Linked DNA regions of Homo sapiens: region 2 is linked to region 1. Evidence: fine-mapped expression QTL. A gene starts in region 1. The other region holds a variant in brackets. All regions are shown on one strand. Distances are between the middles of the regions. Region 1 holds the start of GABRA2 (gamma-aminobutyric acid type A receptor subunit alpha2). Region 2 has its middle 54 kb from the start of GABRA2.

The links. PIP is the estimated chance that this variant, and not a neighbour inherited with it, causes the effect.
Region 2: its variant is fine-mapped to the expression of GABRA2 in esophagus muscle (GTEx, PIP 0.98). The same link has a PIP of 0.9 or more in subcutaneous fat.

The regions. Positions count from the first base shown.
Region 1 is chr4:46,385,199-46,401,544 of GRCh38, forward strand. GABRA2 (gamma-aminobutyric acid type A receptor subunit alpha2) reads right to left here and starts at 4,930. Exons shown (of 10, transcript NM_000807.4): 1 at 4,537-4,930; 2 at 3,438-3,518; 3 at 876-991. The coding sequence starts at 3,508.
Region 2 is chr4:46,436,405-46,452,750 of GRCh38, forward strand. No RefSeq gene overlaps it. Among named protein-coding and RNA genes, the nearest start is that of GABRA2, 54 kb to the left of the region's middle. The variant G/A (reference allele first, on the strand shown) is at 10,044.

The sequences.
Region 1 (16,346 bases):
TGCAAAGTCACCAAACCCGGCAATAACCAGGTTAACTACATAAATCTTGTATTAGTATCAACTGTTCAACTAATTTGTCTTAATTTTGAATTAACTGTGAAACTAAATGTCTTAATGATTATGAAACAAACAAGTGATAAATGTGATCATTAAAATTTAACATATTAGCCAAGCCAAATTTTCTTTCCCTTTTCGAATAAAAATATATTTATTTTTCTGAATTAAAAATTTTAATTTTCTGAATATTTATTTTATTTTTCTGAATAAAAAATGTTTAAATTTGAAATCAAACTGTGCCACAATCCAAAACTTTAGACCTATGTCTAACGTATATCTGAAATGTCTTTGAAAGTTTCAAGAATAACAAAGTTGTGCTGTATTCTAGAAATATCACATGCAAGTGTAAAGAAGTATCATCATAGAATGCTAAAAAGTGTATTCGTTAAAATACAACCACTATATTCTTAAATTTTTTATGTTCCTCATTTCTGTGTATCTGAGCTGACATGAAAATATGATCAAAGAAAGTAAATATACTTTCTTTACACATGAAATATACTTTCATATGTATATCTGCTCAATAATGCTAGATTTTAACATACTCTAAGTGTGAGAAAGTTAATTTAAAAACTATTCATGCAGAAAGTCTGGGCTCCATATGACTTTAGGCATTCTATGAAAGATATGTTAAATACATTATGTATGTATAAAAGGAATCACAGACAATATTTTTTCATATATCTTACTTTCTATTTTCTATAATTTTATATACACAGTGATGCATTCATATATAAAAGTATTAAAATAGGAATATTACCCTTAACTTTTAAAGGCATTATTTTACGAGAGTTTTAAAAGAGGAAAACTATTTTTACCTCCCAGTCCTGGTCTAAGCCGATTATCGTAACCATCCAGAAGTCTGTCAAGAATTCTCGTAAAGATGGTAATGTTATTTTTAGCCTCATCTTCTTGGATGTTAGCCAGCACCAACCTAAACAGATAATTTTAAAAGCTGATATATATACATATGTGTGTTTTGCAAATGCCAACATGCTTTTCTTCCTTAATTTAAATTTTAACACTCCCTGAGCTATTAGTACCACCCGTTTTCCTCCTTTTTTTTTAACTTCTATAAATATCGGTTTGTCTTCAAAAAAGGTAAACATGAAATTGAAATAGATTCTAAATAGTAGATTATCAGAAGTTTGATGTTAACATTATTTGAGATTCTTGCCCCTTTAACATTTTATGTGGACTATTCATTTTCTTTCTAAATCCATCTCCTGGGATATATTATGATTGTAGATTAACACATGCAAACACTATTAGTATTGCTATTCTACAGTTAGAAAATTCCAATAATCAAACAGACTCCTGAAATAACCGTTTTCAATATTAATTGGAAAATAAATTGCTTTTTTGGAGGTAAATATATTTTCTATCTCTCTCATAAGTGTCTTTCTTTTTCATATGTATTTTTCTCTTTTAAATCAGGATTTTTTCCTTACTTTGGGTATACCTCCACCCAATGGCCAAGTGCAATATAAGCATCAGGGAAACTCCACTGGCTATGTGCCAGGCTCCATGTAGCCAGGAGGTGGAGGTGGGCTCTGAAAGCATCAGCAACACATACACAGCTGCAGAGATCCTTAGAGCCTAGTTCTTCCTGATTGGTCTCTGAGAAGAGCAATATTGTAAAGATTAAAATGCCTAGTTACTTTGTTTTGGTGACAATTTTGTAGAAAGAACAAATGGTCTTAAAATATCACCAGAAAAGCTTTAGAAATTGTGATTTTCTCCATTATTTCTCCATCATAAAGCCAAACACCTGATTCTGTGACATGCAGCAATTTGTTGCAGAAGCAACTAAATGTATAAAACAGAATGTCCCTTTTCATTGTCTTTTTTTTTCTCAGAATGAATCAGAGATTTAAATTGCTGGCCCCAAAAAAGAATCATTTATATAATAGAATACAATACTGGCATAAGCATTACTGGTCAAATATAGAACAGAAAACTAGTTGAGAGAAGTATGGTTAAACACTGAGATTTTCAATGATTATTAATTGATAATGGATTGTCCACTCTTTTAAAATAAAAGACAATATGTAATTACATTCTGATCAAGGTGCATTGTATAAAATATTATTAAAAGTGTCCATTTGCATTTAAATGATTACACACCTAGTAGCTATAAATAGTCACAATACATCAAAAACTGGTAACCAACTTCAAACAAATATTGTCTTAAGAGCAGAGAAAATATTAAAGTATTCAAATGAAGATAAACATCTACAAATTAAATAAGTGTATCACTTTATACCCTCTAGCCTCAAAAGTTTCTGTATTGCCTACTTAAGCTAATTTTAAAACCAATAACTAAGATGTTCATAAAGTTCCACATATTTTCATTTGAAAGTGTTTCTTAATCACATTTTATATTTTCTTTCTCAAATCAATATGTAGTCATTAAATTAGTAGATATTTTCCAAATGAAAGCAAGGCTTTATGAGATAGATGGCGTCTCAATTCTAAGAAATGTTTTCATACTTTGACCATTACTTGGACAATTAAATAAAAAGTTAAAAGAGAAATAAAGGTATAATAAAGACTTATTAGATTTTTAAAAATAAATAGTTACAAGAACATTCTTATAAAACTTGTATCTTAAGTCTTCTGGTATTTTGAGAATCATATCCTAAAGGCATTAAAGAAAAGATGTCCACTGATGATGAAAATCAGGAAAGTCTACAAAATAAAATGAAGTTACTGAAAGCAATAAAAATTAATTTCATGTTTTTATAGCATAGGCAAAAGAAAATTCATTACATATTTTAAATCAGTACTCCTGACTGTAAGCATTTGAGAAAAAAATCTTAATAATGCAAAAAGTCGATGATTAATAAATCTAGCTTTTGTTTCATTGTTTGTGATTGTGAAGTTGTATACTACCTCCACCTAGAGGTTTAAGACTCACACATCTTTTGGGTTTTCTATGGTGACTAAAGGAGCCATACCATTAAAAAAAGAAAAGAAAAAGGAAAAAAAAAATTAGTTAACACTCAAATCACTTAGCTGGTACTTTTCTGTCAGCTCGAAGGAAAACTTGGCTTCCTTATCGAATCCTGGTGTTATATTATAAGTGCCTATAATTAATCACTTCAATTCCTTGTAGGAATATGCCATTGAAAGGATTTTCTTTTCTTCTGTGAATGTTCTGCATGGAAAGTGTTTCTGTTTGCTTTTGGATCTTATCACTAAGAACGAGAAGCAGTGAAGTTTTTACAGTCTATTACTTCATAGTTCACTTTCCCCATACACCCCCTTTTCTGAGAAATAATTCTTTAAAACACCCTTGATTTTCAAAAGCATTAATGGCCTACAAGAAACACATCTTTGCCCTGAATTAAAATAGTCAAATACAATAAATATCTCACCTGGCAGGGTCCCACACCAAGAAAACAAAAAGCAGGAACTGCATGTTGTAGATGTTCAATTTTGTCTTCATCACCGCCGCTCTTTACAAAGCCATGGAATGAAAAACAAAATACACTTAAAATTGCCTTCAGTTTCACTATCCAAGTAACCCCAAAGAATATCCTTTTAGTTAGGGATTCGTGTTAAAGCTATGGAGATTACTTCCTGGACTCTGTGTAGGACTTGATGATTGAGAGACGATTTCTTTTTTATGGACCCCCACCCCCACCCTTTTCCTTTCTGTTTCTTTCTTTCTTTTTTTCTTTCTTTCTTTCTTTAACAGCAAGATGACCAAGTAATCAGACTTCTCTCTGCCAGGAACGTCCCCCAGCCTCATCGTCAGCAAACACTGTTTTGCGCACACGTAATAATAACACCCTGGACTTTAAACTGGCATAGCAGCTGGAAAGGGAATGGGTTGGAGGGGAGGGGAGGAAAGGAGAGGAGAGGAGAGATGGGTACTTCACGCCACAACCCCCTCAACCAAGACCACCTCCGCAACCACAGCGGGAAAAGCTAGGGGCAGGCAGCCCACTTTTGCAATTACTCTACATTACAGTGAACTGCGGTCCTCACGTCTTCTTTTCTTCACTCCCCTTAACAAAATAAAATAAATAATTTCCCTTCCTGCCCACCCACGGTTGCCCAAGACCAAGTCTTAGAGGCAGCCGGGTTCCGATCAAGTGCTGCGAAACGACGCGTTTGACAGCTGCTCTGGAGCCGAGGATCACAATAAGAGAAGGCGCGTGAGGCTCCGGCAGCAAACACCAGCCAGGCAGGCAGCGGTAATCACAGTGAGCAAAGTTGAAGACTATAAAAGAGCCAGGCTAACGTGCTGCCGAGCAGGTGTCCTGGATTTTATTGTAGTTGCAAATATGCTTCTGGTGATAAGTATCGAAATTATTTTTTAAGTGCGCTGGGGAGGAGGGAGGTGCGGGAATTGAGCCTCCTCCGTTTCCAGGGAGCCTCTGAAAGTGGGGTGGGGGGAGATGAGGCATGCACGCGAGGCAAAGACAAACAGGAAAGTGTCTCTATCGGGACCAACGTGTGCGACCCTACCTGAAACGGCAAGCAGAATTCGGTGTTTTCTTCCTTTTGCCCTGATCTTGACGAGATAGGAAACTTGGGAGAGAGAGAGAGAGAGAGAGAGAGAGAGAGAGAGAGAGAGAGAGAGAGAGAGAGAGAGACCGAGACTGCAGCAGCCAAGAGAGCGTGGAGCGATGGGCTGGTGGAAGCCGGAGAGGAGCGCTAGGAGCCGCGGCGGCGGCGCGAGGTGTAGAAGGAGGCGAAGGCGTTCGTAGTGGCGGTGATGGGCGGAGGAGGAGGAAGAGGAGGAGGAGGAAGAGGAGGAGGGGGAAAACGATGACAGGAGCTGGGGCCGGGGGGGGAAATTGGGGGGACGCGGGCGGAGGCGCGGTGCGCGCCGGCGGTGGCGGGCACGAGCCCCGCGCCTGGAGGAGGAGGAGTCAGGCCGGGTAGGAGGGCTAAGGAGGTTCCCGGGAAGGCAGGGCCCCCCCTCCCCCCCCTCCCCCCCCCCCACACACACACACTCCCCTGCCTCGATCCCTCGATCCCTGGTAACTGACCGTCGCCCGCCTGGCACTAGCAGCGGCGCAGACCCGGGCGGCGTCGGGCGCCTGGGTGCGCTCGGAGCGCCGCTCCCCTCGCCCACACCTCGCCGGAGGAGCGGAGCCCACGCGCAGCCTCGGGCTGCTCCCCGAGGCCGCTTGCTGGGGCTCCCGAGAGGCCCCAAGGTTCCTGACAGAGCTGCTGTTGGGTGTTGGTGTAAAGCCGGGAATGTAGTGTGGCGGTGATGCCCTAGATCCCTGGGGCCGCGCCCTGCCGCCCGTCCCCCAACATCACCCTACTGTGGAGCGACGTGGCTGCTAAGAGGTAAAGAGGTTCCGCTCCTGCTGGAGGGCAAGGGGACTAATCACGCCTTTACTTAGTCATCAACGCATCCACGCAGGACCAAGTTCAAAGCATGTTGCGTGAAATCAGACAGCAGGAAGTTTATTTGATTCCTTAACCCTCCTGATATACCATTCATTCCTTCACACTCCCGCAATAAAGACCGATTTCCCCTGAAAGCTCTGAGAGCTGGAGAATTCCCTTGAGCCAGTCAGTAAAGTCCATTTGCAGATTACACACACACCTTGGGAAACCTCCCGCTCACTTCCAGCAATCCTTTTCCAACCTCTTTTCACAGGCGCCCTCCCTAGCAGGTGATCAAACTCAATCAACAGCTCCAAAAAGTTTACATTACCCAGGAGCAAAAACGGACCTGCTGTGTTTCTACTACCTCTGCAACTCATTCCCCAGTGGGAGGAAAGGTAACAACGTTTGAGGTTTTCCCCCTTTAGGGCTTTTTGCTGGCAAAGGGACTTGGAATTCCAGTCCCATCTTACACTTTCAGCATTGTGTGTTTGATCTGTCTCATTTCTGTTCTGTTTTATCTGAGGCGATAGAATCCAAACGTGCAACTTGAACAACAAAAAAAGGGGGGGACATTTTCCTTTTTGTACTGCACAGAAGACAGAATGTTATGCACATTTTACTAAGGCAAAGCAGAGCCAGTGTTTATCTCCTCCAGAAGTTGTTATAAACGTTAGACACTTTAAAGGAAAAAAGAGAGAGAGATAAGTATGCTGATACGTTTCTGTCATTTTACATTCAGAGTCAATATGTGCCAAACACTTCAATTTTGTTAGTTATGCACCAAAAATTCAGATGTTTTTCCTAGATGGTGCAGTTTTTCTAACAGGCACTGCTAATCTACAGTAAATTTTAGCTTTGCTTTGAAGATTATGGGAGGAGAGTAAAACCTTTACATTGTAAATATTTCCAGCTGTCCTTTTTAATCTATTAATCACCATTTTCTGGATGAGCATTTAATATGTTACAACCTAAACAAACATTTGCTCTCTTATTTAGCTTGCTCTGTGAAGAATGGAACACCACCCAGCTCTCTCCTCCATCATTAATATTCTTTTCCTGACTTGCCCATTGCAGAGTCTAATTGAAATTCACAAAGATAAAAAGCATGCCATTTAAAACCTTGCAACCAGAGAACCTAAGTATCTTATACTTGGCATGAACAGTTCACTTGCTACTGTATTTTCCTATTTTCCATTTCTGTGAGTCAATCTTCATTAAAATCTCTATCACCTCTCCATTTATATTACTAATAAATTGTTGATATTTTGATAATGGAAGTTAAGCAGTGTATGGTTTCTTCCCAGCCTTAATTGCTATGCTCCAACAAAATTTTTCTTTAATGAATGTCACAATTTTTGTAAATATATTCATATATTATTCTAATACTTATAAGGTCTTCTCCTGGATTCTAATATCAAATTATAAATGTTTTAATTTTTTTCGTTCAACATTTATATCAATTGGAATTGTTTGTTCTGAGGAATTAGCTTTTCCCATTAGCACCCTTATTAAATATGTAATTTCAATGACATATGACCCTCTTATATGACACTTCACAAAGTTCAAGCTGCTTTGAATGTTTTTCACCATTTTGGTTTTTTTTCTGTAAGTGTATGTTACTACATCCCACCGATTTAGAGATGCATTTACTGGAGAATGACCCACAGTAAAAACTAAATTTAAAAGTTTTCATTATAAAACCTTGATTTTTAGTTCTCACAAAATGTTTTACAATTTTAAATGTTGGATAGCTGTAACTTAAACTTCAAAGCACATTAAAGGAAATGGAACTAGAAAAGCTGATTGTGGGCAGCAGATTTCTGGTGTTTAGCCATATCTATACTGCTATTTTGTTGTATTACTAGCCCAGACAAATTTCTCTGGAAATTTGGAGGATTATCCAGCTTCCTCAAACAGCTGACAAACTCAGCCAGATTTTCTTCTCTGCTCTTTGTGATAGAGTGCAGGTTAACTGCCTGAGATCTGAGCCAGCCTGTGTGGGTCGTGACTAAGCTCTTCCTACCCACTCCTTTCAGAGCATGTCCTAAGGCAACCAATCCTGAGGAAGAATTGACAACTAATTGGTTGCCAGTAAATCCATTCCCATCCAGGCTTGGGCAGCACAAAACCTTCTGTTTCAAACCTCTTTGAATTACTGATCAACAAATTAGGTTGGTGGGTGGAGGTGGTCACTTCTTACATATTCCCCAACCCCAACGCTGAAATCCTTAAGGAAATTTCCACATAAAGACCATGAATAAAAGAAAGCTGAAGAATTGGGAGATCTTGGTTTTGTCTGATTTCTTATTAGCTGACATCTCACAATATTGTACAATTTTAAGATTTGTTATAAAAACTGTTCATGTTCTTGAACAGATATTTTGTACAGCTTCCATTTTTAGAGCTCAGCCTAGCATTACTGCTATAGAGAGCTACTACTTTATATGCCCTAGGGGACTTCATTAATCTTTAAGCTTTCTATAGAGTGATATGTGTATAGAAGTATATATATTACATATGTATATATATAATACACCTATATTTATTGTACACTTATATGCATACATACATATATACAAATATGCTAATATATCTGTAGATAAATATATATCAGAACTAATAAAAATAGACAAGAATATTTTAATAAGAATAGCATTTAAATACCACAATTCTACAAAATACATTTAATCTTACTACTACATGAATTGGATCATGATGATCTTTACATGCTTTAAAGAGCAATATCATAATTACTTCAACAAGAATAGCATCTCACTATATTTAACTTTTTAAACTCTCAGCACATATTTCATATAATAAATTTGTGTATACTTTAACTACATACATTCCTATGTGATTCATTCATTTGAATGAGAATACAAATTTATGAAAAATTAGGAACGGAAGCACAGATTATTCTGTTTTCAAACAATTTAATATTATCTTCTACTTTTTCCCATTGAACTAGTTAACTAATTTCAAAGTGGACCTGGAGTATATGTCAGTTCTCACATATTCACCACATTACTGAAAGACAAAATGAGACAAAACCGGTGCAAATTCTTAGCTGACAATTATCAATTCAAAACCAGGACTTGGTCAAGCTCTATTTTTCCCATATGTTGCATTTAGATGGAGGGTTAGGCCCCAAGGTTCTGAGAGAAGAAACAGCTGTAAAGTGGAAGTAACTAGTTTCACAAACAAATAATTCCGAAACTACTCTCTTACATTCACGGATCTAGGTCACATTTCATTAGAGCTAAATATATCATGTGTATTAGCTTGGATAAACTATGCACATTACCTTCTTCAAATAGAATTAGTAACTTTCTGTTTACCAAGTAATTTTACAAATTCTCATCCAACTTGCAAATTGAATATATCAAGCATTCAGGATATCCTGGTGGTTTCTGAGATTTTTAAAACAATTTACAACAAGACACACATAAGAATTATTTGTAAGAAAATTATTTTACCTTCCTTTCTTGAAATTATAGGTATAATTTATTTTTAGGTTAATCAATTCCTTTCTAAAACAAAGATAAAACTCTGGTAATTCAAACCAAAAATTTCCTCACTGAAAACTATGCTTGTTAATGAAGTATAAGCGGCTACATGATCAGCAGCTTTACCTGTGAGACATGTCCTTTAAATGATATTCATAGTAATGACAAGAATAAAAGGAAACCTGTAATGTCTTCATTGGTATAACAGCTTAGATTCCATTCTCAGTGTTTTGTATTAACTCATTTAATCTTCAAAAGTAAGAAGTTATTATTATTTCCATTTCACTGATAAGAAGGTTTAGACACAGAAATATTAAGCCGACTCAAGGTCTCACAGTGCTGGCAAAAGGAGTAGAGCCCTGGCAACATGGCTCCAGAGTTTCCGTAACTACTATACTATTTGTAATAACACCTTATCATGCGCAATTATTCAGACAAAGGCAACAACAATAACAACAAAATCAGAAAACATAGCGAGTCCAGGACCTAATTTGAACCCATTTATAAACACCTCAGGTGGGATAAGATTGGTCCAACTGAAGGATTATTCCAATATCATTATTTATAGCATCAAAACACTTGCATCTTAAGAGGAACAGAGGGTATATATAGTGAAGAAATAAACGAAAAATATAATCAGGCTATGGGCATTTTATGGTCAATCAGTGCGACATGAAAGAGAAAATAGAAACCAATTATTTCTAAGAAAAAGTGAATAATGCTATGGCAAATTAATTATGGATATCAAATGATTTTAAATATAGATCATTTCTCTTTGGTAGAGACTTTTTGTATTTGAGAGAGTGGCTTGCTCATAGATGCTCAATAAATAATTGCTGATCTTCGTAAAGTTAAGCACTTTGGAATACAAATTGGGAGCCTTGGTTCCAGAGCCTGACCTTGGGCAGTCTTAGCTATGACATATTCTGTTACCTCTTAGAGCTCTATCTCTGTCCATCACTGACTATCAGTGCTTAGATACCTTTTTTCCTCTACCTTTTCACCTTTCCCCTATGGAAATCCTGAACACTGGGAGATATTCATTCTAGACTCTTTCTCAACCACCCACCAGTACCATACACATACACACACACACACACACACACACACACACACACACACACAATTACTATCGCTGAGAAAGTACCTCCTATCTATCCATCATCTGAACCATTCTATTCATTACCAATTCCATAGCCTTATCTCTATCCTCACTTGGAATACTGCAATACTAATAAATAGTGGCCTACTAATTAGTTTCTCTGCCTCTGATCTTCGTTTTCTCCAATCTATCTTCCATTGAAACAACAAAAATGTTTCTAAAACTAATTTTGATAGTGTCACTCAGCCATCTAAAATGTTTTCTTGAGAACAGTATAAGGTGCAAACTCTTTTGCATATCACATCTGACTTCAAATTATAGCTTATACCTCCAGTCTCAACTCTGCTTTCTCTGCACACTCCTTGTTACACACATGCACACACATGCATGCACATACACACACATGCACACACATCCATAGCCAGCATTCATTTTTCAAGCATCATTCTTTCCTCTATGCTTCCTGCAAACATAACTTTTTGCATTTCTCTCAAGAGCCAGTGGTTTCATGTCTCTATGCTTTTGTTTCTCACTGTCTTCCCCTACTGGAATGCCACGTTCACCCTATCTACCTGATGAACACTCCAAGTTTCAGCCATGTAAACTACTTCTTCTTCCAGATAAAATTATCATGCCTTACTTTTTACTCCTGTTGAACTTAGCACAGGCATTTAACATTAAACCTAGAATATTCAACTGAACTTATTTATTAACTTTTCTATCACACTGTCTTAGTCATTTGGGGCTGCTATAACAAAATACCATAAAATGCGTAGCTTTTAAACAACATAATTTTACTTTGTACAGTTCTGAAAGTCAAGAACTCCAAGATCCAGGCACTGCAAGATTCAGTGTCATAGATGGTGCCCCTTGCCATGTCTTCACATAGTAGAAAGGGGGAGGTAGCTCTCTGGAGTCTCTTCTATAAGAACACCAATCTCATTAATTAGGACTCTGCTCTCAGGACCTAAGTATCTCCCAAAAGGCCTCACCTCCTAATGCCACAGGGATTGGGATTTCAACACGCGAATTTTGGGAGAACACAACATTCAGATCATAGCACTCACCCTATTGAACAGTGAGCTATTTAAAGGCAGAAGGAGACTCATCTAAGCTATCTTTACCTTCTACATGCATAGGCAGAATCAAGCATATATCATCTTTCAGGAAATTCTTGAGGACATGAGCATCTGTACCTTCATATGTGATATAGTTTGGATATTTGTCCCCTTTAAATCTCATGTTAAAATTTGATCCTCCGTATTGGAAGTGGGGTTTAGTGGGAGGTATTTGGGTTATGGGGGCAGGTCCTTCATGAAGGTCTTTGTGCCCTCCCCCAGTAATGAATGAGTTCTTCTTCTATTAGCTCCCTTGAGATCTGATTGTTACAAGAGCTTGGCACTGCCTTCTCTCTCTCTTTCTTTCTTCATCTTTCCATGTGATGCCTTCTTTCCAATGCCTTCTGCCATGAGTGGAAGCAGCCTGAAGCCCTCACCAGAGGTAGATGCTGGTCCTGTACAGTGCCAGAAGAACCATAGGCCAAATAAACTTATTTTCTTATAAATTATCCAGGTTCATGTATTTATTTATAGCAATGCAAAATGAACTAAAACAATATGTATATGGGAATCATAATCCTTCCTTCAGAGGAATGAGATGTTACAGAGAGTTGAGGTTAAGAGCTCAGACTCTGGTTCTAAATCCGAATCCTGCTGCTTATTCACTATACAACCTTTGACAAATTCCTTAGCCTTACCTTGTCTTAGTTTTCTTACCTGAAGAATAAAAGTATTTGTAGAACCTACTATTTTTGGTCATCACAAGTATTTTATGAGTTGATATATGTGCACAGAACAACACATGGATCATAGACAACACTACACAGTGTTTGCTGGTGTTACTGAAGTATTTGAAAGCTGTTAGATCACTGCCTCCACATTCAGTTGATGAGATTTAGTTGCATGCACAGCACTTGAGTTTGTTGATTCTTTTGGCTCTTACCTTTTCCCATGAGTGTGAATATGTTCCCATCCACTCTTTCCCACCCACATTCAAGCTCCCACATTCACAGAATGACCTGTCAGAGCCCAGCACATATACCTACATTCTCTTACTTTGCATTAGATTATTTTTTCTCATGAATACATTGTTTCCCTCATTCCCTCATTTTTTTTCTGGTCTTTTTTTTTCTCCTGTCCTCCTTTTAGTATCCTATGCCCTCCTTTTTATTCCAGCTCGGCCTGTTTCCATCTTTCGTTAGTTCTCTAATGTCCCCTTTTCCTCCCTCTTTCTCATTAGCATTCCTACATAGCATACATCTGCATTTGTGTATGCACTTGTCTTTTGGCATATGGGAAAATGTGTGTTTATAAGAGTGCATACAGATAAGAAGACAGTGTCTATTTAAGCAGATGGGAATGTGAGTGCTTATGCTGCACATGGATGGGCATCCCTGCCTGTGTTTCTGGGTAAAGGCCTCTGTATAAGCAATACTATTAAATCCACTCAAATGCATGGTATTGATCCATTATATTAATTGAATTGAAAAGTCAAGAGGGGCTTTATTTTTTAAATTGGCTTGATCTGCCTGAATTTTTTTTAAAAAGTCACATGTTTAAATGAAGCCCAAATCTGTAACACCTAGAGAGCTAAATTCATTTGTCAACGTGAAGGCGTCCAGCTGCCCCTCCTACCCATGCCCTAGAGTGAAATATGGTTAAAAGTTGCTCTTCCTTTTTCTGTGATTTCTGGGTATCCAGCATGTATTCAGTTGGAAAAGAGAAACATGAAAATTTTCTGCATTATGAATTAAGAGTTAACAAATTATCCTTAAAATAGGATAACAAACAATTAAGATAACAAACTATTCCAAAATATTTTGGTGGGGAGGGAGACATTTTTATAGAGGCTAATGATGGTGCTCTCCAGCATTATTGCTCTCCAGCAAATATTGCCAGTTTCCAGCATAGATGTAAGAACAGATCAAATTTTCTCACTTTCCTTGAAATTAGAGTTGCTAATGAAAATTGCTCTGACCAATGATAGGGAAGCTAAACAGACTTAGGCCATTTCCAGATGGAAACTGGACGAATAAGTGTCTGATTCACCATGTTTACTCCTTCTCTGTTACCTGGGTATGACCAGTGATGCTCCAAATAGTGCTGGTTGCTCAGTGGGTCCTTGAATGAGGATGACAAAGTTCGGAACTCTTAACTGACTGGCACTGAACTTATAGCATGGACGAGAAATACATATTTGCTGCTTTAAGCCTCTAAAATTTGGAGTAGTATCTACTACAGAATAACTTGATCTCTCCTTACAGCTGAAATATGAGGAGAAAAGCAAAGTTTTTTTGTCTTGTTTTAATACCAAATATTGATTGATGAAGTGGTATATAAAATCTTTTCTGGCAAAGAAGATTTTTTAAAAGATCCAAAAATCACAGCCCATAAATACTTGCTTGCCTAAGCCTAAACCAAATTATTTCATGGGTCTTTGGTTGTATTTATGTTTTTTTCCCATTTCTTAACTGTTTTTATCTTTATTTCTCCTCCACCTAAACACCCAGAGGGGTTGAGAAAAAGTCTGAGATTGTTCTTGAAAAACATTTCTTCTAAATTTCCGTTTCATTCTTCCTTATAGTGGCACAGACATTGGGTAGGTGGATGATATTCATTGAGTTCCAACAGGAACTCTGATTATCAAATCATCTGACAGGTATTAGAAATGGGATAGAAAATGATTTAAAAAGAAGGGATAAGGAAAAGAGGACTGATGTGACAGCAACTGTTAGATGTTAAAGTGAAAGAGAGACGATTAAAAAAAAAAAACTGCTTCTGAGTAGAAATGCATGTAGGAAGATATCTCCATGTTTTCACTACATAAAGAAAAACAAAAGAAATCGGCTCTGACCTAAAAATACAATGAGAACTTTGAGGCCTTTTTCAGAGATTTTTGACAAGGTAGAAAAGGCCAGTTAGTTACAGGTTTTAATATGAACTATTTCGTTGTCATTGCACAATTCACTGGAGCAAAAATTTATGGGTTTAAACTGCTTTTAGCTAGTCAATCAACATCAAACCATTGAGACAATTTAGCATTCAAATTGTGAAAAGAAAAATGTACTTGTCTTTAATAAGCCCTTGAGGGAACAGAAACTATTTCTCTCTCCTTATATTCCTCACAGTGCTTTCCAGATAGTAAGTGCTCAATAAACATTAATAGAAAGTACAATAGACAAGTGAATAAACATGAGTAAATTAACAAATGAATGAAAGACTGTGCCAAAAAGTTCTTAAAGGTCGTTTATAGTAGCTCACCTGTTCTCACCTTCTCCATTTTGACCCTCTCTAGCCTGGCCTCAATGCAGTAGGCTGTGTGATCTTGTCGCAATACAGAGCTGATCGTGTCACTGCATAACTTAAAATTCTTCAAATACTTTCCATTTCTCCTAAGTTCAAGACTAGATTCCTTACATGGTTGATGTCTTGTATGCCTTGGCTCCTATCTGGTGTGGAATCATTATTTTCCTTGCTCCAAGAACACCAGCCTTCTTTCAGTACTTGAAATATGCCAGGCTCCCTAATGGCATTTCTTTTCCTGCCATGGGGCATCATAGCACATGTTTCCTCTGATGGAAGCCTCCTACCTCCTTTACCTGATTTGCATCTATTCATTCCTCTTAGAAGAAATTAGGAAGCACTTCCTTAAGCCTTCCCTGACATAGTAACCCCACCACCAGTCTCTGTTATGTTCCCTTGTTAAATGTGCTTTTTTTTTAAAAGATATCTTGTCTCAGTTTTTTAATTGTTGTGTGTGATTATTTTATTAACATCTGTTAACCAACAGTGCTATATATTCCATGAGTTCAGGTGTCCTGCTTATTTTTATTTAACATTGTATATCCTTGAATTGGTGCATTGCCTGATTCCTTGTAAGCATGCAATAAATCATTGTTGAAAAAAATTAAAGAACAAATAAATGTATAACAAGCTCAAAATGTGATGTATAATGTTACTTTCAAAGATAACATTTCCTATGCCTAAAATTAAATCTATAGTCCAATTATTTGGACTGTTGCTATTGTCATAAAGAGCCTATGGGGAACTAGGAGCTGAAGATAACGTCACTGCCTCTCTACACTTATGAGAAATGAGACGAGGACACATTTTGTGTTGGTAAAAAAGTGGGAGAGAAATTCAATCAAGGTAGGCCAGCAAAAGGAACAAAAGGAAATGATGTATTTGGTTCACAATAAGGAAGTTTTTTTTTGTTTTTTGTTTTTTTTTTTTGAGACCAAGTCTTGCTCTGTCTCCCAGACTGGAGTGCAATGTTGCAATCTTGGCTCACTGAAAACTGCGCCTCCCAGGTTCAAGCAATTGTCTGCCTCAGCCTCCCGAGTAGCTGAGATTATAGGCACCTGCCACCACGCCTGGATAATTTTTGTATTTTTAGTAAAGACAGGATTTCACCATCTTGGCCAGGCTGGTCTTGAACTCCTGACCTCGTAATCCACCCACTCAGCCTCCCAAAGTGATGGGATTGCAAGCATGAGCCATTCAATGTAGGTGGTAATGATAGAGGCCAGTGGGCTATTAGCTTCAAAGGATAAAACTTCAAGTAGGTTATTGCCAGTGTTCAGGAACTGACATCCATCAAATCTTGCCTTAGTATCTCTGCCTAAAATAGAATGATCTATTATTATTTAGCTATAATATAGGACTAAAGTCTGATGGATAAAGAAGAACACTGACATTAGAAAATCATAGACTGAAATGTTTTAAGGGACTTTGCCATCGAAACCAATCCTGCCATCTATTTCTACCTAGGGCTATGTCTGAGCCATAAAGGTGACTAACTTTAAGAAACCATTGAATTTACAAGTCATCTAGGAGCTCACTGAGGAACCCTCTCAAACACTCTACCACCACCACCAGCTGGTTTGTTTATGATATTTCCTGGTGCAATTAACTGTAGACATTTTAGTATAAGTAGTAGACATATGTGTATAGGCAATTTAAATTTAACTAACATCTTATGGTGGGGTTAATTAACCTAAGAAAATTTTCAGTATAAATCAACCTGTTTTAGGCTTATTAATTAGCATAAGACCTATAATAATCTTTTGGCGATAATAGTAATGGGATTTGAAGCTAAGAAGACTTTAAGAGGACCCAAACTCCTTGCATGAATAAGGTCTACAAAGAGCAAGCTCAGCAATGCCCAGAGTGCTGCAAGCCAACCCTAGAGACTTTGACCTGGAGACATCTTGCCACTGGATCCAATTACAAGGCCAGCAGATCTTGCCATCAGACTCTCTTATG
Region 2 (16,346 bases), 51 kb after region 1:
CAGTCCCCAGAATGTGATGTTCCCCTTCCTGCGTCCATGAGCGCTCATTGCTCAATTCCCCCCTATAAGTGAGAACACGCAGTGTTTGGTTTATTGTCCTTGCGATAGTTTACTGAGAATGATGATTTCCAATTTCATCCATGTCCCTACAAAGGACATGAACTCATCATTTTTTATGGCTGCATAGTATTCCATGGTGTATATGTGCCACATTTTCTTAATCCAGTCTATCATTGTTGGACCTTTGGGTTGGTTCCAAGTCTTTGCTATTGTGAATAGTGCCTCAATAAACATACGTGTGCATGTGTCTTTATAGCAGCATGATTTATAGTCCTTTGGGTATATACCCAGTAATGGGATGGCTGGGTCAAATGGTATTTCTAGTTCTAGATCCCCGAGGAATCACCACACTGACTTCCACAATGGTTGAACTAGTTTACAGTCCCACCAATAGTGTAAAAGTGTTCCTATTTCTCCACATCCTCTCCAGCACCTGTTGTGTCCTGACTTTTTAATGATTGCCATTCTAACTGGTGTGAGATGGTATTTCATTGTGGTTTTGATTTGCATTTTTCTGATGGCCAGTGATGGTGAGCATTTTTTCATGTGTTTTTTGGCTGCATAAATGTCTTCTTTTGAGAAGTGTCTGTTCATGTCCTTTGCCCACTTTTTGATGGGGTTGTTTGTTTTTTTCTTGTAAATTTGTTTGATTTCATTGTGGATTCTGGATATTAGCCCTTGGTCAGATGAGTAGGTTGCGAAAATTTTCTCCCATTTTGTAGGTTGCCTGTTCACTCTGATGGTAGTTTCTTGTGCTGTGCAGAAGCTCTTTAGTTTAATTAGATCCCATTTGTCAATTTTGGCTTTTGTTGCCATTGCTTTTGGTGTTTTAGACCTGAAGTCCTTGCCCATGCCTATGTCCTGAATGGTAATGCCTAGGTTTTCTTCTAGGGTTTTTATGGTTTTAGGTCTAATGTTTAAGTCTTTAATCCATCTTGAATTAATTTTTGTATAAGGTGTAAGGAACCCTTCATGCTAAAAACTCTCAATAAATTAGGTATTGATAGGATGTATCTCAAAATAATAAGAGCTATCTATGACAAACCCACAGCCAATATACTGAATGGGCAAAAACTGGAAGCATTCCCTTTCAAAACTGGCACAAGACAGGGATGCCCTGTCTCACCACTCCTATTCAACATAGTGTTGGAAGTTCTGGCCAGGGCAATTAGGCAGGAGAAGGAAATAAAGGGTATTCAATTAGGAAAAGAGGAAGTCAAATTGTCCCTGTTTGCAGATGACATGATTGTATATCTACAAAACCCCATTGTCTCAGCCCAAAATCTCCTTAAGCTGATAAGCAACTTCAGTAAAGTCTCAGGATACAAAATCAATGTACAAAAATCGCAAGCATTCTTATACACCAATAACAGACAAACAGAGAACCAAATCGTGAGTGAACTCCCATTCATAATTGCTTCAAAGAGAATAAAATACCTAGGAATCCAACTTACAAGGGACGTGAAGGACCTCTTCAAGGAGAACTACAAACCACTACTCAATGAAATAAAAGAGGATACAAAGAAATGGAAGAACATTCCGTGCTCATGGGTAGGAAGAATCAATATCATGAACATGGCCATACTGCCCAAGGTAATCTATAGATTCAATGCCATCCCCATCAAGCTACCAATGACTTTCTTCACAGAATTGGAAAAAAACTACTTTAAAGTTCATATGGAACCAAAAAAGAGCCCACATCGCCAAGTCAATCCTAAGGCAAAAGAACAAAGCTGGAGGCATCACGCTACCTGACTTCAAACTATGCTACAAGGCTACAGTAACCAAAACAGCATGGCACTGGTACCAAAACAGAGATATAGATCAATGGAACAGAACAGACCCCTAAGAAATAACGCCGCATATCTACAAATATCTGATCTTTGACAAACCTGAGAAAAACAAGCAATGGAGAAAGGATTCCCTATTTAATAAATGGTGCTGGGAAAACTGGCTAGCCATATGTAGAAAGCTGAAACTGGATCCCTTCCTTACATCCTGGGCATTACTTTTAACCAGACTATCCCCTACTTAAACAGCAAACATTCTGAAATTATATGCAGATATTTATCTATATGCATCTTTTACAACTTTTTTCCTAAGGAAGAATCAATATTTCTCACCAGTTTCTCAAGGAAGTCCATGACCCCCATATTTTCTCTAAAGGTAGACAATAATCTTGAGCCATTCTTCATTAAAACCTTGTTTACAGCATAATGCTCCACCAACTTTAAAATGATTTACATCTTTTATATCTATTTAGGTTTCCAACTTATGCTATCTTCTGGGGCATTGAAATCCACAAAGTTGTTCTCCATTATAGAAAGTGATTATTTCCATTTTCTTGTACTAAAAATCCTTTAAAAATCAAATTATATACACAAGTTTTAGCATTACAGGAGCTTGGGAACAAGTCCCCAGTGAGAAATACTGTAAGGTGGTGCTTCTCAAATTATCTGTGAGGAAAGACCACTTCTTTTTTCTTCTTACCTCTAATCTATTGCAGAGTGACACTGTTACCGAATAAAATTTGGAAATATGACAATGTCAAATTACTGTAAAAATGTCTAAGCACTTACTCTCAACTTTTGTACTTATCACAGATCCATAACAAGTAGTTCACAGATGAACACCATTCTTTGGACCGCATTTTGAACACTAGCATAATTTGCTGAAGATAGAATGCACTACATATTAGGGTCATTTGTGTTTCATAACTAAATTGTGAAAATTGAAAGACCTACATGTTTTTAAAAATTATTTGTATTGTATTAAAAACATATAAGTTATCTACCATCTTAACAAAATTGTAAACGTATAGCATAATAATAACTGTAAACGCAGTTTTGTATAGCTGATCTCTAGAGCTTTTCCATCGTTCATGACTGAAACTCCATACCCACTGAACGGAAATTCCTCCATTTCCTCTTCCCCTCCAAAAGAAATTATTATTATTATTTTATTTATTTATTTATTTATTTATTTATTTATTTATTCTTTTTTTTTTTTTTTTTTTTGGGACAGAGTCTCACTCTGTTGCCCAGGCTGCAGTGCAGTGGTGTGATCTTGGCTCAATTCAACCTCTGCCTCCCTGGTTCAAACAATTCTCCTGCCTCAGCCTCCCGAGGAGCTAGGACTACAGGCACATGCCATCACACCCAGTTAATTTTTGTATTTTTAGTAGAGATGGGGTTTCACCATGTTGGCCAGGCTGGTCTCGAACTTTTGACCTCAGGTGATCCACCCACGTCAGCCTCCCCAAGCGCTGGGATTACAGGCATGAGCCACCACACCCAGCCAAAAATTAATTATTTTTAATGGTAAAAATTCAATCTATTATGGTGATAGGGAGGAAAGGCAAATTCCCAGCCCTGTCTTAATGTATTTATGGAATGATTAAATCAGAAGGCATACATGATCAGATGACAGGACTCAAAGAAGAATAAAGAGTTATTTATCTTTCTTTCTCTAGCATGCCTAAAGATATGATGATGGGAATTGCTGTGTTCTTTGTTACCACAAAAATCTCAGCTATTGTGGCGTGTATAGCCTTCATTGTTACGTTTTCTTTTAAAACTAGAAATCTTTTGTTTTGTTTTGTTTTGTTTTGTCCTAAAACAGTTTTATTTTTTATTTTTTTATTTATTTTATTTTTTTTTTTATTATTATACTTTAAGTTTTAGGGTACATGTGCACATTGTGCAGGTTAGTTACATACGTATACATGTGCCATGCTGGTGTGCTGCACCCACTAAGTCGTCATCTAGCATTAGGTATATCTCCCACTGCTATCCCTCCCCCCTCCCCCCACCCCACAACAGTCCCTGGAATACTATGCAGCCATAAAAAATGATGAGTTCATGTCCTTTGTAGGGACATGGATGAAATTGGAAATCATCATTCTCAGTAAACTATCGCAAGAACAAAAAACCAAACACCGCATATTCTCACTCATAGGTGGGAATTGAACAATGAGATCACATGGACACAGGAAGGGGAAAACTAGAAATCTTAACACATACAAGCTTCAAGCACCTTTCATCCAACCCTTATATTACAAACAATGCCTATACAAGAATGTATGAAAAATGAAATCAGATTTCAGGGTGCTTGTTATGTAGCAAGACAAAGAATGTAAAATTAAATTAACACAAAGCATCATAGGACAAGCATCTTATGAAGCAAAAAACAAAAACTTAAAAAAACTAAAGATGTTAAGAGATGTTAAGAGGAAGAAGAAACACTTTTTTCTAGGGGTAGGGATGAAGGCTAATGTGAATAACTTTTGTTTGTTTTGTTTCTCTATCAAGTTATCCTTTCAATTTTAATTTTGGAGGAAATAATTTTATTGTTTTTAATTTATATGATACATTTTCACTGTACAATGTTTCAGAAACCATATACCAGATGTGTTTAAGGGCAGGGGCAATGAGATTGAAGATGATAAAATGAAGACATAACTGGAAAGCCCGATCTTGAAGGAGTTCAGTTTGGGAAGGGCATATTTTCAAAACATGCACCTTATAAATGAGCAGAAAAAAATCATAAAGTTATCTTAAAGCAAGGTAAATATTGGGTTAGATGAGAGAGATCACACCGATCTTCCTACATAAAATAGGCCAGATTGAGAAATCACACTTAATTTTCATATGAAATAGGAAATGTGGCAATTTGAAATGGACAGGCAAAATAATGGAATAGAGAGTCTGAGAAAAGTAGGGAACTTTGAGAATAAATGTTACAGTGACTGTGCTGGCAAATCACCAAAATAGGAATAATGTTAGTTTCGTTGAGAACCCAGCTAGAACCAAACAACACAGTTCAATTTTGGAGTCATCAACATTGGGAAAATTCCTTGGATTGATTATGGGGAGATTCCCTGAGTCATCTTTAGTGTTCTGAGGTAATTGAAACATTTTTCTACAGATGAAAATAAACAAAATTATGTCTGAATTCCTCTTTCAAATAAACATACAATATGATTATATAAATATAGGAAATGACTCAGAATCTGTGAAACTACAAGACTTGGTTGTAAAATAGTTTATCTCTTTGATTAGATTTTGTTAAAGATAAACATAAATTCCCATATGACCATAATGGTCATTTTAATGAAAACTATCTACTGAATAATAATCAAAACACAATTACTTGATCAGATTTTGTCATAGTCTATTTACATCATGGTGAGCAGGAGGCTCACTACTGAGCACAGTTCTAACTGCCTACCAGATGTGTTCTACCAGGACATTCCACCAACCCCTCAAATAAAAGCTGTAAAGGAAAAAAATCGCTTATTTATTATCTTCCCTCCTCCAGCTCCTTTTCCCCCTGTAGTCTCATAAATGATTCTGTTGAGATCATTCTTATTCCAGGAACTAAAGCTAGAAATCTTAGAAATTGTTTTAATCTTCATTTTTTGTGTGTACACAGTAGGCATATATATTTATGGGATACATGACATATTCTGATAAGGTATATCATATGTAATAATCACATCAGGGTAAATGGAGTGTCTGTCACCTCAAGCATTTATCCTTTCGTTGTGTTACAAACAACCCAGCTGGACTCTTTTTGTTATTTTTAAATGTATAATAAATTATTGTTGAGTGTAGTCACCCTGTTATGCTATCAAATACTAAACCTTGTTCATTCTATTTCATTATTTTTTGTACCCATTAGCCATCTCTCCAATGTACCCTTCCCAGCCTTCTAACTCCATGAGTTCAGTTGTATTAATTTTTAGCTCCCACAAACAAGTGAGACCAAGTGAAGTTTGTCTTTCCGTGCTTGGCTTATTTCACTTAACATAATGACCTCCATTTCCATCCATGTTGTTGCAAATTACAGGATGTCATTCTTTTTTATGGCTGAATAGTATGCCACTGTGTATATGTAACATATTTTCTTTATCCATTCATCTGTTGATGGATACTTAGGCTGCTTCTAAACTTGGTTATTGTGAATGGTGCTGCAACTAACATAGGAGTGCATATATCGCTTCAGTATACTGATTAGATATCTTAGAATATTTTAAAATTACTTTATCTGTCTTGACAATCAGAGCCAATATGATGTCAAATCCATTTGATATAATAATAATAATGAAATAGACAATATTCCTTGACACTTACTATGAGCAAGGTGCTGTGTTAAATAAATACTTTGTAGGTTTTTATTTTCATTAAACCTTCATTCCCATACAAATATATAGGTAGTACCTTTATGATCTTCATTCTATACATGAGGAAAGGCTTAGAGCAAGTGAATAATTTGTCCAAATCCATGCATCTGGTATGCAGGGGAGCTGAAGTATGAATTTATACTCTTACCACTGTCATGTACTCTTTCACCTTCTTTCTATTGAAATTCATTCTCCTCATTCAGTATTTTATCAGGTTTTTATTCTATCTAAGCTTTCTCGTATACTGCTGCCTAGCTGATATTCTTACAGCACAGCTCTAAGTCACCTCCTTATTAAAATATCATCAATATATTTGCATTGATTAATAAAAGCAACACAAATTTTGTGGCCGAAGGGTCAAAACTTTTATACTTTGGATGCAATTTATCTTTCCAGCCTTATCTTTCCACATTTCCAGCCATACAACCATATCTTCAGCCAAATTAACAATTTTGCTTTGCTTCAAAGGACTATGCATGTGCAAAAGCTGGGAAGTGTTGAGTGTTTGAACGAGTTTTGGTGAGTCATGCCTACAGAGTAGAAGGAACCAGACAGGGAAGGTGGTTGTGGCCAGACTGCAAAAGAACTTGAGTCTCACACAACAAAGTTTGACTTTTAGCCTAGAGCATAGGGGTAAAGGTAAGGGATGGTGGGGACAGAGTATGTGCTTGTGGGTGCACAGACACTATTTTCACTATGTTTTGATGTTATTCTGTCTGAAAAAATAAGCTATATTTGTTTGTTAAGGGGGATTTACATCAGCATGTTTATAACAATTAGAACTTATAGCAAGTTCAGTGATGTTTGTTTGCTTCAAATAACTCAAGGGTTAATGTGAACTATGAGCCATTCTTCAACTAAAGTATATGCTTTTCTCAGATTTTAAGAAGTATCAAGATTGGGGAAATGTCACATGAACTTTAATGAAAGCTAATCATATATAGTTATTTTCAAAAAATGAAAGTAATCAACGCTGACCTGTAAGTAGTTGTTTTGACTAAATATAATAGTCAAACCAATCTGTTGTGTACTCTACAATATGATACTGTAAAATTGACAGTGATTTCATTAACCAATATGGAATTTTTAACTTTAAAAATGTATTACTCGAAAATATTGGCTGGGCACAGTGGCTCACGCCTGTCATCTCAGCACTTTTGGGAGCCTGAGGCAAGCGGATCTCCTGAGGTCAAGAGTTTGAGACCAGCCTGGTCAACAAGGTGAAACCCTGTCTCTACTAAAAACACAAAAATTAGTCAGGCATGGTGGTGCACACCAGTGGTTTCAGTTGCTCTGGAGGCTGAGGCAGGAGAATCACTTGAACCCGGGAGGCGAAGGTTGAAGTGAGCTGGTGCCACTGCACTCCACCCTGGGCAACAGAGCAGGATTCCATCTCAAAAAACAAACAAACAAACAAACAACAACAACCATAACTATATATCTGATTATTTCTTCACTTAACTGTCTTAGAAAATCCAAACATAAGATATCTATTTTTGAATACATTTGTTATTATTTTACATGGTTTATAAAATTAAACACAGATACCAAAAATTCTCAATTAATAGGCAGTTTTGTATTTTGCGTTCTAAGTAATGAGCCATTATTTTTTAATTTTACATTTTATAAAAATAATATTTAACAAATTATAAGCATAATGGTAGGTTTTATTAAAACAGTGTTTTTCAAATAAGTTCGACTGGGTGGTTTAAAAACTGACTTACATACATTACAGTATAGCATTTCCTATCTTGCATTCCATGCATGTGAGAAAGATAACTCGGGCCCAGAAATGCATGTATTTGGAAGACTGAAAATTCGATGGGCATGACATTTTCTAGCCAGATAAAAATATACATGCATATGTCTGTATGACTCATTCCACACAACTCAAAATTGCTGGAGAGTGGGTGTAGCTATGAATATTACTGCACAATGTAGTTTTCAAAGAAAAAAAAACAAATTTGGCAGCTTCCTATCTTTTTGGATAACTTTAGATTAATTGAAATTTCAATTAATGAAATGCACAGCTAAAAATGCATTAAAGGCACATCAAGTGCTAGAGAACAAATGAGGGAGAATGAATAATACAAAACCAAGATGATAACTTTTCTATGAATGTGCATATTTCGTCTGTCTGTCTGAATGCATTTTAACTAAGTTAGGCCATGTCTCAGACAGTAAATTGAAATGGGCAATTGATTTTTTTTTTGTCTGTACTTCAATATCATTGTATTTCCGATGCAAATTGTGAGATCTGCATTTTCCAAATAGTTTTTTTCAATTTCAAACATTTCTTGTAAATTGTCATTTGGTTATTGGTTGTGAATGAGCTAGAGTCTACATATATGGAATAATATAAAGACAGTTTTAGTAGGTGTCGTCTTTGAGTTTTTTTATATAAAATACTGTGGTAAGTGATAATGCGTTTTTTTACATGTATTATCTCTTTTAACCTCCTCCCCAAAATATGAACTTCTTACTGTTACTTTTTTTGTTTTTTTATATGTTAAAAATTAAACAGTATAACATATTCCAACAAAGCTAGTACATAACATAGTTGGAATTCGGGCCCCATTTTTTCTGATGCCAGATCCCATTTCTAAACTGGTATGTTATTTAACATCTTTAGAAAAGGCTTATTTCAGTTTACAAAAGTTATGGAACCATTGATAATAATTAAAATATAGGTGAGAGGAATGACATAAAGTTATGTCCACAAGGTTTGAAACATGTATGTGAAGGTTAATATATAAATAATTATATATTTATATGCATACAGTTTATTCATTTCATATTCCAATATTATATAAATTATCAATTTATACAAATAAATTCACTCAACTCTACATGCAGCAAAACCAATATTACCGTTCTTTTTTTATAAAAAGTTTTATACAAACATAGTAATGTACAGAAATTATGCAGGAAACCTGTTCGGAGGTCTTTAAATGGATTAATTTTTATCTGTACAAGAGCCTGGCGCACAGATTTTTCTTACAAATCCTTTTATACAACTTTAATAATTGGATGGTTAGTAAAGGTTAAGTTCAGCCAGACAAATAGTTGAGTGAAGTCACTTGGTTAGACCATGGTTATGTGAGGGAGAGAAAATAACATATCTGTATAGAAAGCGGCCTCCATGGTTCATTTTGCGCATCTTAATAGTCAATGCCAGTCACTGAAGCTGTTGCTATTGCTATTGATTATGAAATTAGCACTGTGAGTCATAAAGGTTTTGCTTACTCTCCTGCCATCCGTTTTATTGACTTAGGAACAAGTGAGCTTCAAACAGCAGTATTCGCTTTGTGCATATTGAACATGGCAGAAAGCAAACAAGCAAACAGCATTACTTTTCTCTAATATTGTCTGTGTGCTTCCAACCTAGCCTCGAAGCCTTCATTCACAAATTTATAAATGCCTGTATGTTTGCAACCTGAAAACTCCAGTTCAAGATGATCTCACCCTAGGGAATTCAATACATCCCTAATCATCTAAATAGTACTCTTGACCTTTGCTATTAGTCAGACTTGAATTTCCCAATTGTTCACAATTGTTCTTTCACAATTGTTCTTCTTTTCTCAGGTGGTAGATATTTCCCCAGATGTTAAATATAAGCTTCTTAAGGACTGATGTGTCAAATTTATTTATTTTTCCATGCAAACATTATTTTATTCATTTGAAAAGAATTTATCATGAATTTATTCAGCACTATTGTCTTTTGCTTTATTTAATTATAAAGGGTTATTTAATAATCTTGAGCTTCAGTTTTCTCATCTCTAACATGTGAATAATCAAA[G/A]TGAATTATAATTATAGTGAAAATGAAATGAGAAAATTTCTGAAAAGTGCCTAAAGTAGTACATTGTGGCTTCTGCATTTCTTTGAGTAAGGCCTTGGTAAATGTTGAATTGGATGATAGCTACTGGTTAGTTTCATCAAAATGATCAACAAATCATTTGTTTAGACATAGTTATTCACACCTCTAACTTCTTAATAAAATTGGACTTTAACAATGAAAATAAATTTTAGTCACTTGATGTATTCTGGAAAACATATCAAATGCATTGTGGATGGTATCTTTGGAAAGGGAAAGAGGAAAGTGGCTAAAGATCAGAGACAGGGGTGGAATAAAATAGGAGAGGAGCCTTTTATCGACCAATCAGGATGATGTGTTGGAGCCTGAGAATTCAGTTTAAATTATTCTTCTGCTCCTGAGAAAATGGGATAGAAGACGAACAAAAAGGAAACAACAAAAATGAAAATGCATTCATCTTGTTTGCAGGTACCAAGAAAAGCATATCCATATGTAAGTAATGATCATGAATACATGTATTTGTAGAGTATATGTAGTGTCTCTGTCTATCCATTCATCTATCTGTGTTCTTACTGAAGATGAGTGATACATGGCATTTAAATTATGATCTCCTTCAATTTGCACAGATATTTCAGTCTCATTGGTACTTACCTTCCATGTTTCTTCACAAACTACAAATATAGAAGACAGACTTGCAACTCTTACTTTAGTCTCCTTCAAACAATGATAAACATCAATATTATTGAGTAAAAGAGTCTTCTAAATATTGACCTTAAACCACAGAGAAATATATAGATTTCACCACAAAGGGTAATATTTTATTAAGTTATATAATATATTTGAAAATTCTAACTTAACTTTAAGACTGACAATACTTTTCTTTAAGGGCTTAAGTCATAAGTCAGTGTTATTCAATTATCTATAATGGGAAAATCATGATACAGCACTCAGAGTGAGTGCGAGCATTGAATTAAGATGGTTTTTAACCAAAATGAATGCATTTTAAATAAATATAATAATCATGCTACTTTATATCTCTACAAAGAGATCTTTAAAGCCAAAAATCCATGATCGACATTCTCCTATTGATTTAAACTATCTCATTTATTATTTTAATAGCAACAGACTTGCTAAATTTCTACTCCACTTAAAATTATGTAAGGTATACTCTTCAGCTAAGAAAGGACTATATATGTAGGCACAGTAGCAGAATATTTCTGAGTACACTTTCCATCATAGCTTTTTTCTTTCTTGCCCTTCTAACTCAGCATGTAGGCAAGAAGACACTTAGAAAATAGAACAATGCTAATTGGTTTTATCACATGTTAGTCAAAAATGAAATAATGGAATCTTAAATATCATCTTTCAGAGTACAGAGAGTCCACTCACTCTTTACAGAATATGCCTTGAATAATATCCCCATAAAAATATTTAAAGAAATTTGCTATTTTATTCTATGCATATGCATTTTCAAGGAAGAGTCAAATTTGAAAGAATATTTGGATAAAGTCCAAGACATTAAGACAAAGGCATATAGGTTTTAATCCTTACATTACTTTCATTGTCTGTTTAATATCATAGAAAATTAACTAGGCCTCTGTATAATTTTTGTGAAGTTATTCACTTAATAAGGGATACATTTTCCATAGAAATGATTTGGATTGAATCATGAAGTTCAGATTTGCTTAAGCATAAATAAATCATTATTCCAAAAGTGTAATAATAAGAAATGAAGTATTTCCAATAAAATTGTGATTTTTAATTGTAGAATGATGATCTTCATAGAAGAGTTTTATGTTCTTAATATTTGATGATATACTATATAGGGAATTTTGTATTAATTTGTCCTGGGGTTTTATTGTTGGAAGGAAAAAAGTTTACTAAGATTGGAGTACTACCAGGAAAAGCCTGATGCTCACAGAACAAGAAATCTTAGAAGGTAGCATATACTCAATGGTTTAAGGACAATGTTCCTCCACATGTGTGTGAGAATGTGGGGGACAGATGCCACATATTCATGCACAATGACCCCCATTTACAGACCTAAATGCATAGCCTTTACCCAGGTGATTCTGCTGCAGGTTGTCCTTTGACCATTGGTTTAGGATCTCACTCTCAACCTTGCAGCCTCAGAAAACTGAAACTATTTTAAGTTCATTAACTATGGATCTCTCTGTCTGGAGTAGACTCATATCGCCAACAAGTTCACAGAAAAAAACACATAACTCATGAGTTCACAGGGACCAAGGTATATAACAAAATGCTGAAGTATTTTTTTAAATTAAAACTACAACTTTCATGCAAGGCAGTATACTTAGGTCAGTAAGTCAGAGCAGTTATAATCAGAAAGCTAATTCAAAAATTGAAATAAGATAATCCATATGATTCAAATTTAAAAAATCAAGGTTTAAATTGTTATTGAACTCACAGAAAATCTTTTTAATTATGTAGAATGGCCATGGCTCTCTCCATCTTTATTAAGAAATATGAATGTAGGCTGGGCGCGATGGTTCATGCCTGTAATCCCAACACTTTGGGATGCCGAGGCAGGTGGATCACGAGGTCAGGAGATGGAGACCATCCTGGCTAACATGGTGAAACCCTGTCTCTACCAAAAAAATAAAAAATATTAGCTGGTGTGGTGGCGGGCGCCTGTAGTCCCAGTTACTTGGGAGGCTGAGGCAGGAGAATGGCGTGAACCTGGGAGGAGGAGCTTGCAGTAAGCCGAGATCGCGCCACTGCACTCCAGCCTGGGCGACAGAGCGAGACTCTGTCTCAAAAAAAAAAAAAAAAAAAAAAAAAAGAAAGGTGAATGTATAGACATTTGCAAAAGGATGTGATAGTCCTTCATATTTCTGTTATTCAGAATTAACAAAGGTTAACATTTTAATATATTTCATTTTTAAATAATTCCTTACTACTTAAATATTACATAATTTATATTATACACGCTGTAAATACATATATTGTCTTTTTGCTCATAAAACATTACAGATAAATAGTGATGATAATTAAGAATAATGTATTGTATACTTGATATTCGTTAAAAGAATGGATCTTAAATCATCTGACCACACACACACACACACACACACACACGATGACTATGTAGAGCTGATATATTACCTGGATTGTGGTGATCATCTCACAATGTGTGTGTCTATCAAAACATTAAGTTGTCCTAAGTATATATAATTTTTATATGTCTATGATATATCTCCAAGAAGCTGTTTATAAAAATGTACAAATAAATTCTCCCATGAAAACCACTTGGTACTCCTCTCTATCTCTATTGGAAGCTGTCTTCTGGAATCATGCATAAGTCGCCAGAAATACTGTTCATTGATATGAAAGTACGGAGTCCCTGTTGCCACAATGTTACCGTCAGCTGTTGACTGACCACGTTGCCACTGTCCACTGAAGTTTATCCAGGGATATTGACAACATGCTTATTCAATATAGGAGCCTGATGGATATTTTATGTAGGTAGATACAAACAAAATATAAGAAAAAAAACACATAAAAAGTTATATCACATAACTCATTCTAGAGACATAAATATAAACAAATACTAAGAATTAATTAAATTAGGAATGTCACACCCCAAAAAGAAGAATACATTGCAATCAAAAACAGATGATTGATTTATATATAAGAAGATATAGGCTGGGTGCAGTGGCTCACTCCTGTAATCCCAGCACTTTGGGAGGCCAAGGCAGGCGGATCATCTGAGATCGGGAGTTCAAGACCAGCCTGACGAACATGAAGAAACCCTGTCTCTACTAAAAATACAAAATTAGCCAGGTGTGGTGGTGCATGCCTGTAATCCCATCTACTCAGGAGGCTGATACAGGAGAATCGCTTGAACCAGGAGGTGGAGGTCGCCGTGGGCTGAGATCACGCCATTGCAATCCAACCTGGGCAACAAGACTGAAACTCTGTTTCAAAAAAAAAAAAAAAAAAAAGATATAATTCTTAGGACAGTGAAAATTTTGTCTACCTACTATGGCTTTAAAATTAATGCATAATGGCTTATAATCAAGACAATTTAAAATGACTTTTTGTGGGAGGGAAATCTTTACATAAATCACAGTGGTTCTGGACATGTCAAGAGGAATAAAGAGGTGTTGTTTGCTGGAAACACAGCCTGCAAAAAAAGTCACAGAAGTGGAAATGAACCAGCCTTATGCAGACCACATTGTAACACCAACTAGACTGTGGCTCATCACAACTGTTGAAGAGATTTTTGAAAATGAGTGAGCTGTTTGAGAGCCAGACTTTAACAAAAGGCTTTTTCAAAATGATTTCCTTAGATTAGCATTACTTTCATGGCATTTTGTAAAACACTGGTATTCTGTTAGATATTAACTAACAGAATGGAGTTCTGTTAGTCTGGAGTTAGATACTAACTCCATTCCCTTTCAAAATAATAATACATTGTACTGGGGGACTGCTAGCTAATATACGCTCTCATGGCAATTTACAGTATTAGCGTATGATTGTTACTATGCTATTCTGTGGCAGAGAAACTTCTTCACATTCGTTCACTTAAGTCACTGAACTCTTTTTCATAAGATGAACAATTTTTATATTGGTAAAATTTACAAAAGATGGTGGGAATGAGCACGGATGCTTGAACAAGAAAGTAGCATGGTAAAAATCATTGTTTAGAAGCAGAATGTAGGTGGAGGAAGTATGTGGAGGTAGTGAGGAGAAGGGGGAATTGTGTCCAGAAATTGGCAGGGCAGCTAATGCCCTGGTGCAGTCGTGAAGTCATGAGGATGATACCTGGGGCAGAGGGAATTATGAGAAAAGATGCAGTCCAAGAGACAATGAGGCAAATGACAAGAACATATCAATGGCTTGGATGTAAAGGAATGAACATAAAGGAGGGACAAAAACAGCTACTGTTAGTAAAAGCTACTCACTAGCTTTTTTCTCTTTATTGTTTTCGAAAAGCAAAAAGAGCTTAAAGAAGTCCGTGGGGGGCAAAAATTAAGCTCTATGAATGAATATGCACATGCTATGAAGGATAAAAGTGGAATTAGTAGGCCGGGCACGGTGGCTCATGCCTGTAATCCCAACACGTTGGGAGGCTGAGGCAGGCCGATCACATGAGGTTGAGAGTTCGCAACCAGCCTGACCAACATAGAGAAACCCCATCTCTAGTAAAAATACAAAATTAGCTGGGCGTGGTGGCAGGCGTCTGTAATCCCAGCTACTCGGGAGGCTGAAGCAGGAGAATCACTTGAACGCGGGAGGTGGAGGTTGTGGTGAGCCGAGACCGCACCATTGCCCTCCAGCCTGGGCAGCAAGAGCAAAACTCCGTTTCAACAACGACAACAACAACAAAAGTGGAATTAGTAAATTCTAATAAAGTAAAATATAGTTAACTAGTTAATAATTTAATCCATGCAAGTTGGGTCATGTACTTATTGAAAACTATATAAATCTATGCTATTTGTATAAAAATACATATACGCTAACAACATTTTATATATACATATATATCAATAGTATGTCAAACATTTTTACAAATGTTTTTGAAAAGTTCTGGAAGGCAAAGGAGATTTTAGTAATTGAATTGAGAGGGCATATAAGGTGGGGAAAATATAGATAAAATAAATATAGAAAATATATATTACAATTTCTAATAAGTCACAGAAAAAATGTGCTATAATTAATTTTTGTGGAAGTTTGTGATGTAATAAAATGAAAGGAGAAATGTCAGTTAATTCTCTATCCACTGCCAACTGGCTTCCTGTGGAATGACAGAGTAAAAGAAGTCAGGCAATAATAATTTCAATCACCTCAAGATTGATTTACTTTCAATTACACGTTCAGTCTGGTGAAAGGTGTTATAATGGCAGCTCAAGTTTCCCAAAGTAAAGTAGAACACGAGAAGCAGTAATTTAAAGTGTTCCACAGGCAGGCCTCTATCTTGACCTACACAGTCACTGTGGACATTCAATTATTGAACTCCTCTTTTGTTTACAATAATGCTACTTAATTCAAATCTCATCTGTAGAGTGAAGGGTCCTTTATCTAATTTCCATCTACACCTTTAGTAGATAAAACATACAGTGCATTGTCCTTCAGTTACAATAATATGACATTGGATCATCGTCTTTAAATGGCACTAAAAAATGTAAGGCATTTATGTAGAAGATACTACCAGTAACGAGTATGGCACTTTATCTCTTTACAAAGTACTTCTATGTTATTATCTCATTTGATATTTAAGAATAACAATATTATTATTAAAATTACTTAACAATTGATTGATTT